Regions from separate parts of the Homo sapiens genome. Here region 1 is linked to region 2. A link means that fine-mapping ties the variant in region 2 to the expression of a gene that starts in the linked region. Tissue or cell type: whole blood. Region 2 holds a variant in brackets; the other region holds the start of a gene. All regions are shown on one strand. Distances are between the middles of the regions.

Region 1 (8,105 bases), 76 kb before region 2:
TCATCCATGTTGTTGCATTTCCATATTTTTAATATTAATCTTTCCAGGTGCCTGAGGAAATTCTTGTCTCAACTCTTTTTTTCTTTTTATCATTTTGTATATATTATTCTTGGGATCATATTTAGAAAGTGCTTGATAAATGAACGGTTGTATTCAATCTTGTAAGATAGCTCTCAAGTCTAAAGCAACAGTACGGACTCTGGGAGTGCTTTGCTGACTTTGGCATGTTTTTCTGGTGTTGACAGATACTCTATTAGATATCAATTGCTATGTAACAAATTATTCCAAGACTTAGTGTCTGAAAGCAACAATAATTTATTATCTCTCGAAGTGTCTATGAATCAGGAATTCAAGAGCAGCTCTGTTGGGTGTTCTGGCTTTAAGTCTTTAATGAGGTTGCAGTCAGCTGTGAGAGGGCTCTAGTCATCTGATGGCATGACTGGGGCTGGAAGATCTTCCAAGGTCATTCACATGTTGGTAAGTTGGTGCTGGCTGGTTGCTTCCTCTCCAAGAAGGTGTCTGCACAACCCTGACTGAATGTCTTCATGACATGGCAGCTGGCTTATCCCAGAGCAAGTTAGCAAGAAAGAGCAAGGCAGAAGCTGCAATGCCTTTATGAACTAGCCTTGGAAGTCACACTTTATCATTTCTACCATATTCTATCAGTCACAAAGGCAAGCCCTGATTCAACATAGAAGGGGACTACACAAGGGAGTGCATACCAGGAGGTAAGCATCACTGGGGGCCATTTTGGAGGCTGGCTACCACAGAGAAGTTGTCAGCAGCAAGAATATTTTTATTTTATTATTTTATTTTATTTATTTATTTATTTATTTATTTATTTATTTATTTATTTTTATTTTACTTTGAGACAGGGTCTCACTCTGTCGCCCAGGCTGGAATGCAGCAGTGTGATCAGAGAGCCCAGGTTCAGGTGATTCTCCCACCTCAGTCTCCTGGGTAGCTGGGACTATAGGCACAGGCCACCACGTCTGGCTAGGCTAATTTTTTGTAGAGACAGGTTTCAGCCAAGTTGCCCAGGCTGATCTCAAACTCCTGGGCTCAAGCAATCCACCACCTCAGCTTCTCAAAGTGCTGGGATTATAGGCATGAGCCACTGTGCCCAGCCAGAAAACATTTTATGGCAATAAACACAATATGCAATTGAAAGTGGCTTAAATAATGACACTATCTCACATAATAAGAAGTATGTAGAGAGCACAGTTCTGGGGTTAATTCTTGGCCCTGATACCTCCCTCCAAGACAAAGAGCTCATTATATTTTCACTTTGCTTTCTTCAACATGCTGGGGATCTCTCCCATCATGGTCACATGTTGGCTGCAGTGGTTTTAGGGGTCATAGGCAGACAGGACCACATCCATTGCAAAAGAAAGGAGCGTCATTTTGTGAGTTAATTTTATTTTGAGAGATAACATTTCCTGGAAATGCTGTTATTGTTGTCTCAGATCCCACTGGCCAGGACTGGAAAACATAGTAATGCCTAAAAAATATATTATATTGTAAATCCATATATTTGCAAGCATCAGTATTTTGTAAATGCATACCTCATTTTTCAGCAAGAAAAAGAAAATTAAGGGGCCCACAGAAACTCAGTCTTAAAAAAATTTAGAAATATGGCTGGGCGCGATGGCTCATGTCTGTAATCCCAGCACTTTGGGAGGTCGAGGCAGGCGGATCACCTGAGGTCAGGAGTTTGAGACCAGCCTGGCCAACATGGTGAAACCCCGTCTCTAGTAAAAATACAAAAATTAGCTGGGTGTGCTGGCAGGCGCCTGTAATCGCAGCTATTTGGGAGGCCAAGGCAGGAGAATTGCTTGAACCTGGGAGGCGGAGGTTGCAGTGAGCCAAGATCGCGTCATTGCACCGCAGCCTGGGCGACAAGAGCAACACTCCGTCTCAAAACAACAACAAAAAATTTAAAAAAATTTAGTTTTACAGATACTTTAGTACAAACATACCCAATTCTGTCAAGACTGAAGAACTTTCCAGGGACCTAGTATCAGAACTCTGTTTCTCCCATCTCCTTCCCAAATAAAAGAGGGGAAATAACGGCTTGACTAATGACCTTCTTGTGATACTTACCTGTTGGCCTTTTCATTTGACCCTGGAATGGTCTATTTTGCTAGGTGTAGTATATGCCAATGAATGTGAAAGAAAACAATGGCAGAGAGATGAAGGATTTATAGACAATGGTTCTTTGGCTAGGTAAACTGACACCTGCTAATTACCAATAAGTGTCTTGGAAAGTGAAATGTGAAAGCAAAATCACAGATACGATTCTCATATACATGCTTAAGGTTATTCAGAATGTGGTAAGGTCACAGCAACAATCAAGAATTAAGCTAAAAAACAAGCTGTGTATATTCTTAGTAAAGAAAATAGAAGTTTTATTGAAGTGCTCCATTGTTTTAAAAAATTAAAAATTTCAGATCCTTACAATTTTCCAAAACAGGATCATTAAAAAATACCTTTATTTTAATACTTGTTAGGGGTCTTCTTGTCTAAAGAGAAATGACAGTGACTGAAAGAAGGTGTGCTACCCAAAGCACTCGTAGGCCACGATGAACCTACATTCCTGGCCTTCAGTCAGTTTCCGGATCTTTCTTTGCCCAGGGCTAAGATACTGAAATAACGATTTATTAAAATTAACACACCTGCAATTCTGGTTCTTAGATGGGAACCATTTAATATATGGGCTTGGTTCTGAGATCTTTACTCAATAAAACTCCCAACTGTTTTGACTGACATCGTTGGCACTTCGTGACTGATTAAGGCACCTGCCTCCGGTTCCATGTCACTTCGTCTTGGGACACGTGGCGCTAATGCCACTTTTCAACCCCCCACCCCATTCAGCGACATTAACCCGGGCGACAGTCCAGGGCTAAACAGTTGCTGAAACAGTTAAATGTGTGTTTTATTGAGGTGAACCACGTACACAACAACCCCCTTTGAGTGAAACAATTTTGTTGTGTAACCATTTGTCACTTCTACATGGATGAGGTCAACGAAATCCTCAAAGTTGCTGTCTCAGGAATAAATTTTGTTCGTGGTTGGGAAAACGAAGTGGAGAATGTTATGGGATAGAGAAAATAGCTTATTTTCTCAGTGGTTAAGTGGGAGTGGGTAAAACACAATTGGCCTTGCATGTGCTTTGTTTAAACGGCGGTGCAGTAATTCTAAATGAGAAGACAAGACGCCCATCGTCACCGTCTTCTCCCTTTGTCTCACATTCCGCCCGGAGATGTGGGGGGTCTCACTCAATGCGGAACGGAGGTGGCGGGGGTGCGGCGCCCCAGAGGCGAAGGCGGAGGCGCCAGGACGCCGCTCCTGGCCTCTCAGGATACCAGCAGGCTACACGCAAGGTCGGGGGCAAGGCCGCGTGGCGGCTTGGAGCCGCGCGAAGGAAGCGAGGGCTGGCGGCCCCAGGGCAAAGGGGTCTGGCGGCGCCAGCCTGGGGCGCTGCAGCGGGCGGGGCGTGCGCAGCGCCGCTCCCCGGAGAGAAAGGAACCTCCGCAATGTCGGGGCCCGGCTGCGACCGGAAAACGGCGGGGGAAGAGAGAAAAGGAGGAGGGAGGGGGAAAAGGAGGTGGGGATACGAAGGAGCGGGGAGGCGGCGGGCGGGGCCTGCGGCGCGCAGCCCCAGTAGATCTCCGGAAATTTTCCACTAACGCTCCGAGCGCCAGAGCCGCCCGGGCGCAGCCCGCCTCTGCGCGCCCGCGACCCACGTGACGGTGATTCATTCGGCACCGCCTCCCCAGCCCGCGCGCGGACTTGGAGCCAAGAGTGGGAGCAGGGGTCGGGGGGAGGAGAAGGTGGAGGAGGAGGCGAAGAGGAGGCGGGGAGGAGGCGGGGAGGAGGGGGGAAGGGTTCGGGGAGAGGGAGGAGGGGAAGCAGAGGGGACGATGAGGTGCGGAGGCGTTGGCAGGTACCTGGGCCCCGCCGCCCGGGTGTGTGGGGGTCGGGTCGGGGGTCCAGCAAAGCCCCATCCAGTCGAGCCTGGGCAAGCTGAGAGGCTGTCGGGTGCGCTCCAGTTACGCTCCCCTGCGTCGTGGAAAACCTAGAGAGCCCTACAGCGTCAGGGCTAATCCCGGGACGCCTCGAGGCCCCGCGGAGTTTTCGCGAACGCGCCGGGCGGTGCAGGGATGTCCTGCTTGGGAGAGTGCAGGGTTGGAAGCGGGCACGCCCTGTTGGCAGCTGCCGGCGCTTGTGTACGTGGCTGCTGACGTGGAGAACTGTAGCTGTGGAAAGCCTGCGCCCCAAGGAGGGACGCGGGGGTGCAGTCGCGGCCCATTATCTGTGCCCGGGAAGTCCTGAAGGCTCTAGGAGCTGTCAGATTAAACCCCCAGACCCACAAGAAAATCCCTGAAGCTTCGGTGAGCGTGGGATTTGGCGTGCAGTTGGTTCCGTATGGTTCCCCATTAAGACTTGGAAGTCGGCTTACCAAGATTTCCTCTTACCCTTCGGCTGTGTTGAGTAGATATTACACAGACACCCCGCCCATGACTCTGCTCTTGCAGGAAAACATTTATTTCAAAAATACTGCAACGGTTTCATCTCTCATGTCCTTTTAGGTTCTTTCTAGTAATTGTGAACTTTTCCTCTCAAGTCATTCCATCAAAGTCTTGGAAGCAAATGAAAAAAACATACTACCCTGAAATAGAGTTCACATCTTTCTTTACCAACTTGCCTTTCCCAGGAAGACATCGTGGTGGGTTTGCAGTTCAGGTTTCCTCACAGCCTCTCCTGGGGGTCTTTTTCCCTCTCTGGTACCTTGAGGCATAGGACAGAAGGGAGCTGCTGAAGTTTCTGGATGTCGCTTATTTTTCACATTTGTTTTAACTTCTTTTGGCCAGAACTGTGTATTGTTTTCGCATAGATTTCTGCAATTAGAATTATTGTAATTAGAAAGAATAATAATCTTCATATAAGGCTTAGGGTACGCACTACTTTAAGGTCTTTGTAAATGTGTGCATATTCATTTCTCTCATCAACTCTGAGGTAGGGGCTATTCTTACCCCATTATTGACCTTTTACAAATGAGGAAACTGATGCTTGGAGAAGTTAGATAACTCGCCCAAGGCCATTCCTTCTCTAAGAGGAGGAACTGGAATTTGACCCCAAACTGTCAGGTAAATCCAATGCTTTGTTCACTATGCAATAGAAATTCTTTATTAATAAATTTAATTGTGTTGAAATATTAAGTTTACATTTTGGTGGGATTTTCCCCCTCGTTTTATTAAAGTGGCCTTCCTGAATTTTATTGTGGAGGGATGTTTAAAGTTAGTTTGGGTAGAAAGCCACACACAATTGTAAAAAGGAAGTCTTATGAAGAAATCATGCATTCCAAGGCAGTGTTACATTTTTCTTAAAGGGTAGATTATTGAAATATTTGACCTAAGAACTCATTTTTTTTCTCAGGAGAAAGGTTTGTCTTCATACACCTTTAGCCCCGAGCAAATGGTGAATCCTCCAGGAGAATGACGATGAGGCTTTTTAGTCTTCAGGGTTCGATAAATATATATCGATTGAAATGTATTCAAAAAGTGAATACCCTTGAAAGGACGATGACATAATGCCAAATGAAAAGGAAATTTCCCAAAGAAACCTAAATAATGGATAGATTTGATAGCAAGATACTACTGGTTTTTTCCTTCTGGAACCTTCTTTTCTGCACTTGAAACCTTCCCTGTCCAGCCAAGACTGGGTTAGAAGCTCCTTTTGTGTGTTCGTGTGGCACCCAAGGTCTGCCCCTGTAGTGGTACTGACCACGGTGTATTCTCGTGGCCTGTTCACCTGGCTGTGCTTCCCAGGAGAGTAAGTGCCTGGAAGAGCAGGCATTCTGTCAGGCTCAACAGAGTGCAACAGCGTGTCCCCAGGGCTCAGGACAGTTGTTTGTCCTAGAGCTATGGGAGTTATTGAGCTAAGCAATACTTGTTAAAAGCATGAGCTTACACAATTGATCAGCCATGTCTTGTTAGGATGTACTGAATTGGAATTTAGCAGAAACTGGGAGAGCAATGTCCCCGTCAGGAAATGTCTGTTCAATCTTGGTCTGTGTATATCCTACTTACCCACATGTTATTTTGCACATAATAGTTTTTTTGATGTTTATTAAGAACAAAAACAGCCTCTTTAAAATTGTGTGTTCAGTTAGCTAACTGTATTTCAGCATCCAATTAATAATCAGAGGTTTAATAACTACAGCCTTAATTCTGGCCTCACAATGATAGAATGATAAAATCATAGGTTTTTTTTTTTTTTTTTTTTTTTTGGCTGAAGGAGATCTTATAACTGCTCTGTCCAATACACAACCACTGGCCACATGGCTATTTGAATGAATTAAAATTAATAAAATTGACAATTAAGTTCTTCAATAGGGCATTTTAATTGCTCAGTAGCCACATGTGACTACTTAAATAAAATTAATTTTATTAATTCATTCAAAAATGGACAGCACTGACAGATAGTTCCATTATTGTAGGAACTGTTATTGGACAGGGCTGATAAGTTACCGAAGGAAAAAAAACAGGTAAAAGAAGATATTTGAGATAGCTTAGCATTAGCATTGTTACATACAAAGAACATTACACTCATATTCAAAGTGTCTGCTGTTAGGTTGGTGCAAAAGTAATTGCGGTTTTTGCCATTACTTTTAATGAGGAAATATTTCGTATATGATAAACAGTTTTCCTTAGCAGTTGTACCTAAATTAATGCACATTTAAACATATTCAGGAGAATGAATGGTTCAAAAGGATTCCTTTTTGCATTCCTTTAAAGTGAATACTCATTCCAGTTGATCCTTTGTGAGTTCTATTTTTTTTTCTGTTTAAACATACTGAAATCAACTTGAGTCACTACACAAGTTTGACATTCATTAGATTTGGCTGTGCTTTTTAAGCTCGCATGATTGAGAAACTAAAATACTCAGTAATGTTGGTAAAGGACAAATGCCAGATAGTTTTGGACAGACCAAATATATATTTAATGACATCACACATGCAATACAGACAGTTCTCAATTTACAAACACTCTTGAGAAGCAGCCATAGGTTAAATATAAAACATACTGGGTGTACCTTCTTTAAAATCCTCTTAAGAACAGTACCACCTGGATATCCATTGTATGAACAAATTAGTATTTAAAAATAATAAAAATAAGTCTTAGAATTAGAGAATGTATAGTTTTGAGCTGTGGAGGCAATAAAGAGGCTGTGTAAAACTCAGGGGGAGTTAGTTGAGGTTATTTCCACAGTAGAGCAGATTTGCTTAAGTAACCCCCTGACAAAAATAGCTTAGTTCCGCCTCCCCGCAGCATGCCTGCCCCTCCCTGCTGTGTGCATTTCCCCCAGTCCTTCAGTCGTTAAAAATTTTCCCATTTCATTTATACTCCAGTTTCAGTTCCGTTGATTCAAAGTTTTGGGACTTAGGACAAGTTTGCTAGCTTCTCTGAGCCTCAGTTTTTTAAACCGTTAAATAGGAATAACAGCATGCTGAGTGCCAAGAATTAAAGAAAAATTTATGTGAAAATATAGATTAGAAAGAAAACTAATATAAATGCAGGGGATTATGATCATAATACTCATAAAACTTCAGTACTCCCTGGGAAGATCCAATGGCCGTCAGTCATGTGCACGTGATCAGAATCTGGGCCATCATATTTTTTTAAGCAAGTTGATGGCCTGAGGGTTCTTGGCCAGGTGGGAGGAGGCTGCTCTGGGATGTTGAAGAGAGATTTTAAAAAGGAGATGGAAGGCTGTGAAAACATAGTTCAAATTGGAGGGAGCTTGGGCAGATACCACCTTTTCTTTTAAGGAATGAATGTAATTGCTTGCATTTTGTCTCTACTTCCTTCCTCTCATTGATTTATTCCGAAGGCTAGAGTTTCTACTTTACATTCTAATTCATCTGACATAGCGTGTTTTTAAAAAACTTAGCATTGCTTGCTTTGATTTTCCAGTTGACTTTTGCTGATGGAGCCTCTCTGAAGGGCAAATTCAAAGTACAGCTGGGTGCTGCAGCACTGGAGTGCGAACTTGTGGCTGTGGTTATGAAGGAGCCTCGTCAGCTATGCCTTTAGCCCCTG
Region 2 (8,105 bases):
AATTTAAGCTTACTTCCTCTCCTACTTCTGTTTAAACTGATAACCTTGCCCAACACTGGTTAATCCCAAGAAAGATATTGGGACAAAGGTATCTATTGGAACACTCTCTTTTGGCTTAGTTGTCTTCATAATTCCTCTTGTAGGTGACTGGTTATCTTGATCTCTCCCACAATTGGTTTGGAAGCCTGCTCAGCAGCCCCTGTCACTCAACTCTCAAAGATCACTTTTGTTTTCAAGCAAATACTAAAACAGGTGGAACCTGCCACCAGTAATATGACCCACTGAGTAGAGAAGGTGACTCAGTCTTGGCAGCTCAAGTCAGGCTTGGGAGAGGTGACTGTGGGAATCCAAATGAACGGCTTATTTCCAAAGAATGTGCAAAATTCCAGTGTCAAAAATGTGAACAATTCAGTGCAACTGGACACACCTGACACACCTCTGCAGTCTTCCTCACACAAAGCCACCTGCTCTAAGTCAGCTTCAGGAGAATCTTGTTTTCTAGCACCCACAGGAGCAGTTCCTACAACTCAAGGGAGAGTTCAGATGGAAGGAGTGTTTGCTCCAAGGCTTGATATGCAGCTCAGAGTTGGAAGAAGAGTTTCCAGTGAAGCCCATGATGAAAGTTGATTATGAAACACTGATGTTTCTCACTTTTTTTACACTTTCATTTTGCTGACCTGTTATCAGTAATTTACGTGTTCCTCAGTGTCAAAAAACATGAATAGTTCTTATAGCCTTGCTTCCCTCTCTTCCAAGTCTCAGAGCTTCTGCTGGGTCAGGTTAACCCAAGCTCAAAAAAATCTTGGAGTTTTTCCAGGTAGTCAGTTCTTTCTGCTCAGCTGCCACCATGACTTCTTAAATTTATATAAAGGAAGAATAATCTAGTGGGGAAAAACTTGGCTGTATTAAGAGAAGACATGAGTTTGAAGCCAAGTTTCATTAAGTTGATAATTATGTGACTTTATCTCCTTTGAGAAAGCTGCTTTGTCTCCTAGTACATCTGGTTTTAATTTTGTATGATACAGATAAGATACTGGTCACATGGTGATGTACAAGGATGCTCTGAAAATGAAATAAGGCATACTAAGCTCCAAGACTCTTTTGATATAAATCCTACATAAAGTCAGCAGATTGAGGTTATCATTATAATGATGTAAGTGGTTGTAAATGCTCACCAAGGCTTAACTACATAAACACAGGGAAGAGGAAGAGAGACTTTTTTTTAGTTAAAAAGAATAAGTGGCCAACACCCCAACCCCCTTTTTTTATTTTTACGGTGTGTGTACATTAACATTTCTAAATTACTCAATTCCTTCTTGTGAAGGTTTTGCTAAAACCTGTAAGTTTAGACTATCTGGTGAAAAATCATATCCTCTTGTTATTGATGTTTTAAAACTTTTAAGTATTTTGACCTAAATGCTAAAGAACAAAGTCAATTGTTCAACTAAAAAGGCAGAATGTAAATATTTATTTGGCTTAGGTACTCTCGGAGCATCTATTTTCACAATCAAAATACTTCCTCCCAAATATTTGAGAAAGAGTTATAATATGGCTCTTTGAAAAGCGTGGGAAATTAAGGATGAAATAAAAACGTGACTATAGACTTCCTCAATTTTGAATAAGATTTCAGTGAGGGTCTCTTATGATTGGATGTTGATTTTATTAGCTTTTTATGTGACTTCATACTGCTTACTTTTGAAAAACGTTAATTGCATTTAATAGAGACATGGTTTACAGTGAATTAAGTGAAATATTGAAAAACAATTCTTAGAAAATAAAAAAATGTTGCTTTCCATTTTATTCCTTTTTTATTTATTTATTCCCAGGCTCTGCAGATTAATTTAAGTTTCATAATTTTGTTTGCTTTCATAATTTTGTTTGTTACATATTCTTTTTTATTTGGAGACGGATTCTCACTCTGTTGCCCAGGCTGGAGTGCAGTGGTGCGATCTCTGCTCACTGCAACCTCTGCCTCCCCGGTTCAAGCAATTCTCCTGCCTCAACCTCCTGAGTAGCTGGGACTACAGGCACATGCCACCATGCCCAACTAATTTTTTGTATTTTAGTAGAGATGGGGTTTCACCATGTTGCCCAGGCTGGTCTTGAACTCCTAAGCTCAGGCAGTCCACCTGCCTCGGCCTCCCAAAGTGCTAGGATTACAGTTGTGAGCCACCGCGCCCAGCCACTAGTTATTCACTTTCTTGTTTGAACTTTTGATCGTTTATTCCTTTACTCGGCTGCCCATTCATTTGTTAATACACTTATGAAATATTCAATGACCTAATAATTTGTGCCAGTCGCTGTTCTAGCGACAATTACATTTCATTAATTTAAAGGCATATATTTTCATTTAGGTGTATTTCTTTTATATTTGGCAAACTAATTTGTTTTGAAGCACATTGTAAACACTAGAAAGAAATTGATGACTTAGTGTGGTAATAAGGGAATGTCTACAGTTCAGGTTTTTGACCAGGTCAGGGCAACAGCAGTAATGATAACAGCTTACACCAACAGAACCCTACCATGTACCAGGTGCTATTCCAAGTGCTTTTCATGAATAAATGAGTTGAATCCTTAAAATAACTGAAGATTAAAATAAGAGAGGAGGAAACTGAAGTAGATGCCTCACTTTAAGTGATGCTGTTAAAGTTACAGAGCCTAATAAATGCTGGTGCCAAAAGGACAATATTACAAATCTCAAAGTGTTTTTCTGAGGATTAAAATAAAAAAGTCATGCAACGTGTTTATATCTCAATAATCATTAGGGAAAAACCCCCAGATCATAGAATAATTGTTTTTGTGATTGCACCAAGTGACTCATTTAAAATGCAGTCTCTAGGGTGGACTTAACTCTGTCACCTACTAGCTGTGTGACCCTTCAAAAATTGTTTTACTTCTCTGTGCCTCAGTTTCCCATCTGTAAAATGAGCATAATTCCTGCACTATCTAAGTAGGTAACTATGAGGCTCTAGTCTAGGAGATAGGTTCATGACAGTGTGTCGCAGGCCATGAAGAACTCTGGGAGTGTAGGAATTTTGCAGCAGTGTCTTTTTTTTAACGGTCCTACCTGCTGGTAGGACACCCCCCTTTTAAAAAAAATGCGTAGTCTAAATAGTACACAAATCAACTTTTACCTCATTAGCATTTTTTTTTCCATTAAACACTTCTGGATTCTTGGTAATTCTTTTGTAAACCACTTCCTCCTGTTGAAATCTTGAACTAATTTTGATATAGAAACTAGCTGTTGGGGTGATAGTACATGAGCCAGTTTATTAAAATCATCACCTGGTCTTTGGAGAATGGTGGTCTCTTCTGATTCTTTGTCCTGGATTACAACTCCCTCTTGTCACCTACCCTCATCATAGAAACTCATCTTTAAATACTCTTAATTGACCACATCTCTCTATTCTGTAATTCTAGTTTGCAGAATAAGCTCTCCTAGATATATCATCTGATGACTATTCCAGTTTGCTGTGCTTTCTATTTTTCACATCTTGTGTTATTTGAAGACGTTTATATTTACCTAATCCCCCTAGCAGCCCCAGGGGAAAGCAGGATGCCATGAGGCTCCGAGCACGCTGACTGTCTACATTCATTGGTCAGAAGGAACAATATTCACTCCTCTTTGGTTTTCACACAAGTCACTACTTTCTTGACTCAACCACACATCCCTTCCTTTGTTATGCTTGTATTTGAGTCATTGCTCCTGCTGATAACCAAATGCTGTTTTGCCATGTTCTTTTCTTTTTTCTACTCTTTGGAAAGTCTAACGACTTGCTCCTTTTCTGTCCCCTACAGAGAGGGCAATGGCTCATGCCTGTAATCTCAACATGTTGGGAGGCTGAGGTGGGCAGATCACATAAGGCAACAAGATCGAGACCAGCCTGGCAAAACTCCATCTCTATTAAAAATACAAAAATTAGCTGGGCATGGTGGCGTGCACCTGTGGTTCCGGCTACTTGGGAGGCTGAGGCAGGAGAATCGCTTGAACCCGGCAAGTGGAGGTTACAGTGAGCTGGGATCGCTCTACTACACTTCAGCTTGGGTGACAGAACAAGACTGTGTCTCAAAAAAAAAAGTAAAAACTAATATTAAGTTGACCTATTACTGTGGATTTAACTAGTACAGTTAGTGTGTTTTCTATGCAGGAGGGGGATGGAGGAGGGAGGAAAGCAGCTGTTATTATAAAACTGTAGTATATGTTTTAAAAACAGTTATAATTTTTATCTTTTTTCTATTCTTAGAAGCAATACGTCTCACACTTCAGGGCTAAAATGTACTTCTCTTCCTCTTCTAAAATCCTGGATACAAATCCTTGGTCTTAAGTTCTCTTTTCCATTCCAGGACACTTTCTAGCCAAAAGTGGAGGTTGCGTTGATCAGGAAGGGTT[A/C]GGCAACCTTTGTTGTTGAAGGACAATTTTGATGGAAGGATCCTGTCCCAGTCCCTCCCCTCCCCTCTTCTTCCTCTTCCTCCCCCTTATGATTTGCTGAGCTCTTCAAACACTTTGTCCCTGGGATCACCCTCGCCTCTGGGATGGAGCGCTCCATTGTGGCACCCTTATACCTTGCAAGTGCCTTCAGCAGTGCTTCCGTCAGCCTTGGAGGGTATAATCTGGAGCTGGAGGTTTCTAAGCAGTCAGGCTGCTGTGAGCATGATGTTTTGGTGTGTTTGCACCAGCTTCCTGTTGCAGAGTTTGGGAAGTGAATCTGGTAACTGCCTGAACAGAAACACTTCCCCTTACTTTCTACATCAAAGAGAAGTTATGAAGTTACCTGACATTGGTGTCACTTTTTAGGAGTAAGGACAAAGCATTGTGTTTTAAGGAGACTACATAAATAGGGAAAGGACCTCAGCTTCAGCTAAAAGAGGTCACACAATTTCTTTTAGCCTCAGTTTCCTCTTATGTAAGATGAAGTGATACTATGCCCCTTGCATGGTTGTTATGAGAAGGCAATGAGATAATTTAAATGAAGTGCCAGGTACCTTGCGGGGGGCACTTAATAAGTGGTAGCCATTTCTGTTATGGAGAATAGGTTCTGTTTTGTATAAGTGTTGTGGACTATGTCTTCTGAAGTTTGTTTTGTGAGTTGCAGTCATGTGATTCATATTTCCAGTATAGCCCCTGTACACTGTGTAGGTGTTTATACCCACTTTTGCCAGTGGAGTGAGAGCTCCTGCAGGAAAGAGAGGCATGGTGTGCTTGCTTATCTACGTGCTGGGGTAGAGAGGCATGGAAGGAAGGGCCAAAGAGCTCAGGCTGGAGCTAGGCTGTCTGAGTTTAAATGCTGCTGCTAAGTTAGTAGCTGTGTAAACTCAGGCAAGTTACTCAGCTTCTCTGTGTTTCAGTTTCGTCATCTGTAGAATAGAGACACTACTGTATACTACCTCATAGAGAGGTTGTAAGAATCAAATGAAAAAATTCACAGATATATGTAAAAGGCTTAAAACAGCATCTGGCTCAGGGTATACTGTTACTATGTACAGCATACATCAGACTCACTGTATGGTGAGTGCTCCCTAAATGCAAGCTTGCAAATGAGTGGGAAGTAGAGCATCCCTCTTTCTCTGTGTTCTATAGGGATCCCAAATAGAGGTGTGAACTACACGTGCTTATAAGAGATAGAATATCAAGTAGAATTTAGATTCCTGTATATGGGAGAACATTCCTCTTCTGCTGGACTCTGTTTCTGCTGCACCCTTGATTTCCCTCCCGTTTGGTATTCCCAGGGTTCCTGTTCATATCTCTTTGGTCATATCTCCTGGTCATATCTCTGGTGGTCAGTTCTGTGGGGACAGCACTATGTCCAACTTGTTTAATGTTATATCAGTAACTCCTAGCCTCTGGCATGATAGATTCTAAAAGCATGTTTAACAAATGATACATGGAACACTAGAAAGTGCTATTGAATGTAAGCAGTTTCCAAGAGACACTATTTGTGCACTTAGTAAGGTCAGTACACTGGGCCAGGGCGGGGACAGGAATACGTGAGAACACAAGTGTAGTGGGAACATACTGTTAATTTACAACCACAGGAAAAAAACAAATATGCAGGGTCATAAGCCTTGATTTAGAAAATAGTCCCATTATATATAGTGGTAACCCCAAACCTCGGTATTTAGTTTAGGGTAGAATCTGGGAAGAGAAATTGAACGGGAGATTCAGCCCGGAGGAATCACATGATAAAGACTGACTAAATATTGTAAATTTTTCTCAGAGCAAACTTTTATAATGCATGTTTCTCAAATATTAATTGATGGTCTAGTGTCTAAAAGAAATAAGCCCAGGAAGGCTATGCCATTGTATTTTTAGAAGTACTTAAGTGACCTCTAGCCACTCTAACAACTCCTTGAGAGTTATGGCAATATCCAGGATGTTTTGTGTCTTTGTCAGGCATATGATATATTACTGTCTGCCTGGCCCAGTGTCTTTTAAGGAATTCTGTGGATCAAGTGTCAGGCCATGGCAGGAGACTTGTTCTAAAACAATCATCAGCCTGGTTGAAACAACATAAAAAAAAGTTTCTAAGTTTACTATGAGTGTTGTTCATTGCACCTCACTGCAAAGCTATTTTCCTTTGCATCTTGCAGTTGTTTTCATGGTGGCAACTCCTGCAAAGCATATATGACACCCGACAAAGGATGTCATGGCAGGTTGAGTGTTCTATCTGTAAGCCTTTCTAATTTAGCAGTAAAATTTTAAAGCAAAGCCCAGAAAATCCTTGTTGATGTTTGACTCTATGCCCATTAAAGTCTTTTATGCCCCCAAAGAATTGAGATCTTCAGATAAAATGTGAAGTGCAGCACAAACGAAAACACGTTTGTCAAGTATTAAAACATGCTGGGACTTGGAGGCGTTGCAAGACCTTTTACAAACTGCATATAGTTTTATAAATTTAACAAATGACATGAAATTTTATCTTTATAAGTGAAACTCCCAATTCTTGTTTTTCTTTCTCAACTGGAGGCAACTAGAAAAAGAAAGACTATTTTTGCTTTAGGATTGGATTTATTTTAGGGCTATTTGTTGATTTTTGGATGTATTACAAGCCCTGGTGGGAGAGGGAAGTTCTGGAGCCAGAAGGACCAAGTTTTTTATTCTGCCTTTGGCATCAATCAGGCACATACACTGGGGCAAGTCTCTTAACTTTCTGATGGTCAGTTCCTCATCTGAAAAAGGAGTAACATACCTACCTCACATGGTAGTGTCCAGCACATACTGGGCAACATTAATTTTAAAATCTGAATTTAGGTTGCTTTTTAAACATACATATCGGTGGAAAGAAAACTGGGCTTAAGCCAGAAAACCAGTCTTTGTCCTGCTGCTTCTTAGTTTTCAACAAATTAACTCAGAAACAGAAATTTAGAACTGAAGGGATTTGGAGGGAGCCCAGCCCTCTTGACTTTCAAATAACAAAACTGAGGACCAGAAAAATGATAAGCCTTGCTTAAGGCCATGCAAGCTAGTGACAGGGCATTGAACATAAACCAGCAGTCAGGGTGCCAGGTCCCAGCCTTCTTCAGTCCTACGGCCCTGTCTTTTGGTAAAAAGCTACACAGATTTGTTATGATTTAATCACGTTTGTTTCCAGTGTCAACCTAATTTGATATTCTTAGTGCCAAAAAGACTTCTTCAGACTAAAAGAACAAAATGACAACCATGACTATTTGACCAGAAGAGAATTATAGAGCAGAGGATCTTAGAGTTCTGACATAGCTCAGAAAGTTAAAGATCAGGACGGTGACTATCGGCCTGGACTGATGCATGGACATGCAGTGTCAGAACTCCTCAAAGATTCTCAATCTTTCCCCCCCATATCACAGCTGACTTATTCTGATGGGAAAATAGAAAGGTACCTCTTTGAGGGAAAAGCACATGTATTACATATTGTTTGAAACCTCCACAGGGGCTTGTACAGTGCTTAGCACCCCATTGATTTCTTTAAATGCCTTCTAAATAGTATGGACAATGAAAAACTACTACTAGAATTTTCAGTATAGGGTATTGATGGGATTTACAAACTGAATGCACCTGTGCAATCAGCACCCTGATGTATACATACAGAACATTATCAGCATTCCAGAAGCCTCCTCCATGCCCCCAGCAG

The links. PIP is the estimated chance that this variant, and not a neighbour inherited with it, causes the effect.
Region 1: it holds the start of SLC38A4-AS1, and the variant in region 2 is fine-mapped to the expression of SLC38A4-AS1 in whole blood (TOPMed, PIP above 0.99).

The regions. Positions count from the first base shown.
Region 1 is chr12:46,379,768-46,387,872 of GRCh38, forward strand. SLC38A4-AS1 (SLC38A4 antisense RNA 1) reads left to right here and starts at 3,909. Exons shown (of 4, transcript NR_125380.1): 1 at 3,909-3,928; 2 at 7,980-8,105. RefSeq lists enhancers at 3,273-3,780, 6,474-6,975 and silencers at 3,335-3,694, 3,845-3,914.
Region 2 is chr12:46,455,688-46,463,792 of GRCh38, forward strand. All of the region lies in intron 2 of SLC38A4-AS1 (SLC38A4 antisense RNA 1), which reads left to right. All of the region lies in intron 1 of LOC124902923 (a long non-coding RNA gene), which reads right to left. Among named protein-coding and RNA genes, the nearest start is that of SLC38A4-AS1, 76 kb to the left of the region's middle. The variant A/C (reference allele first, on the strand shown) is at 4,391.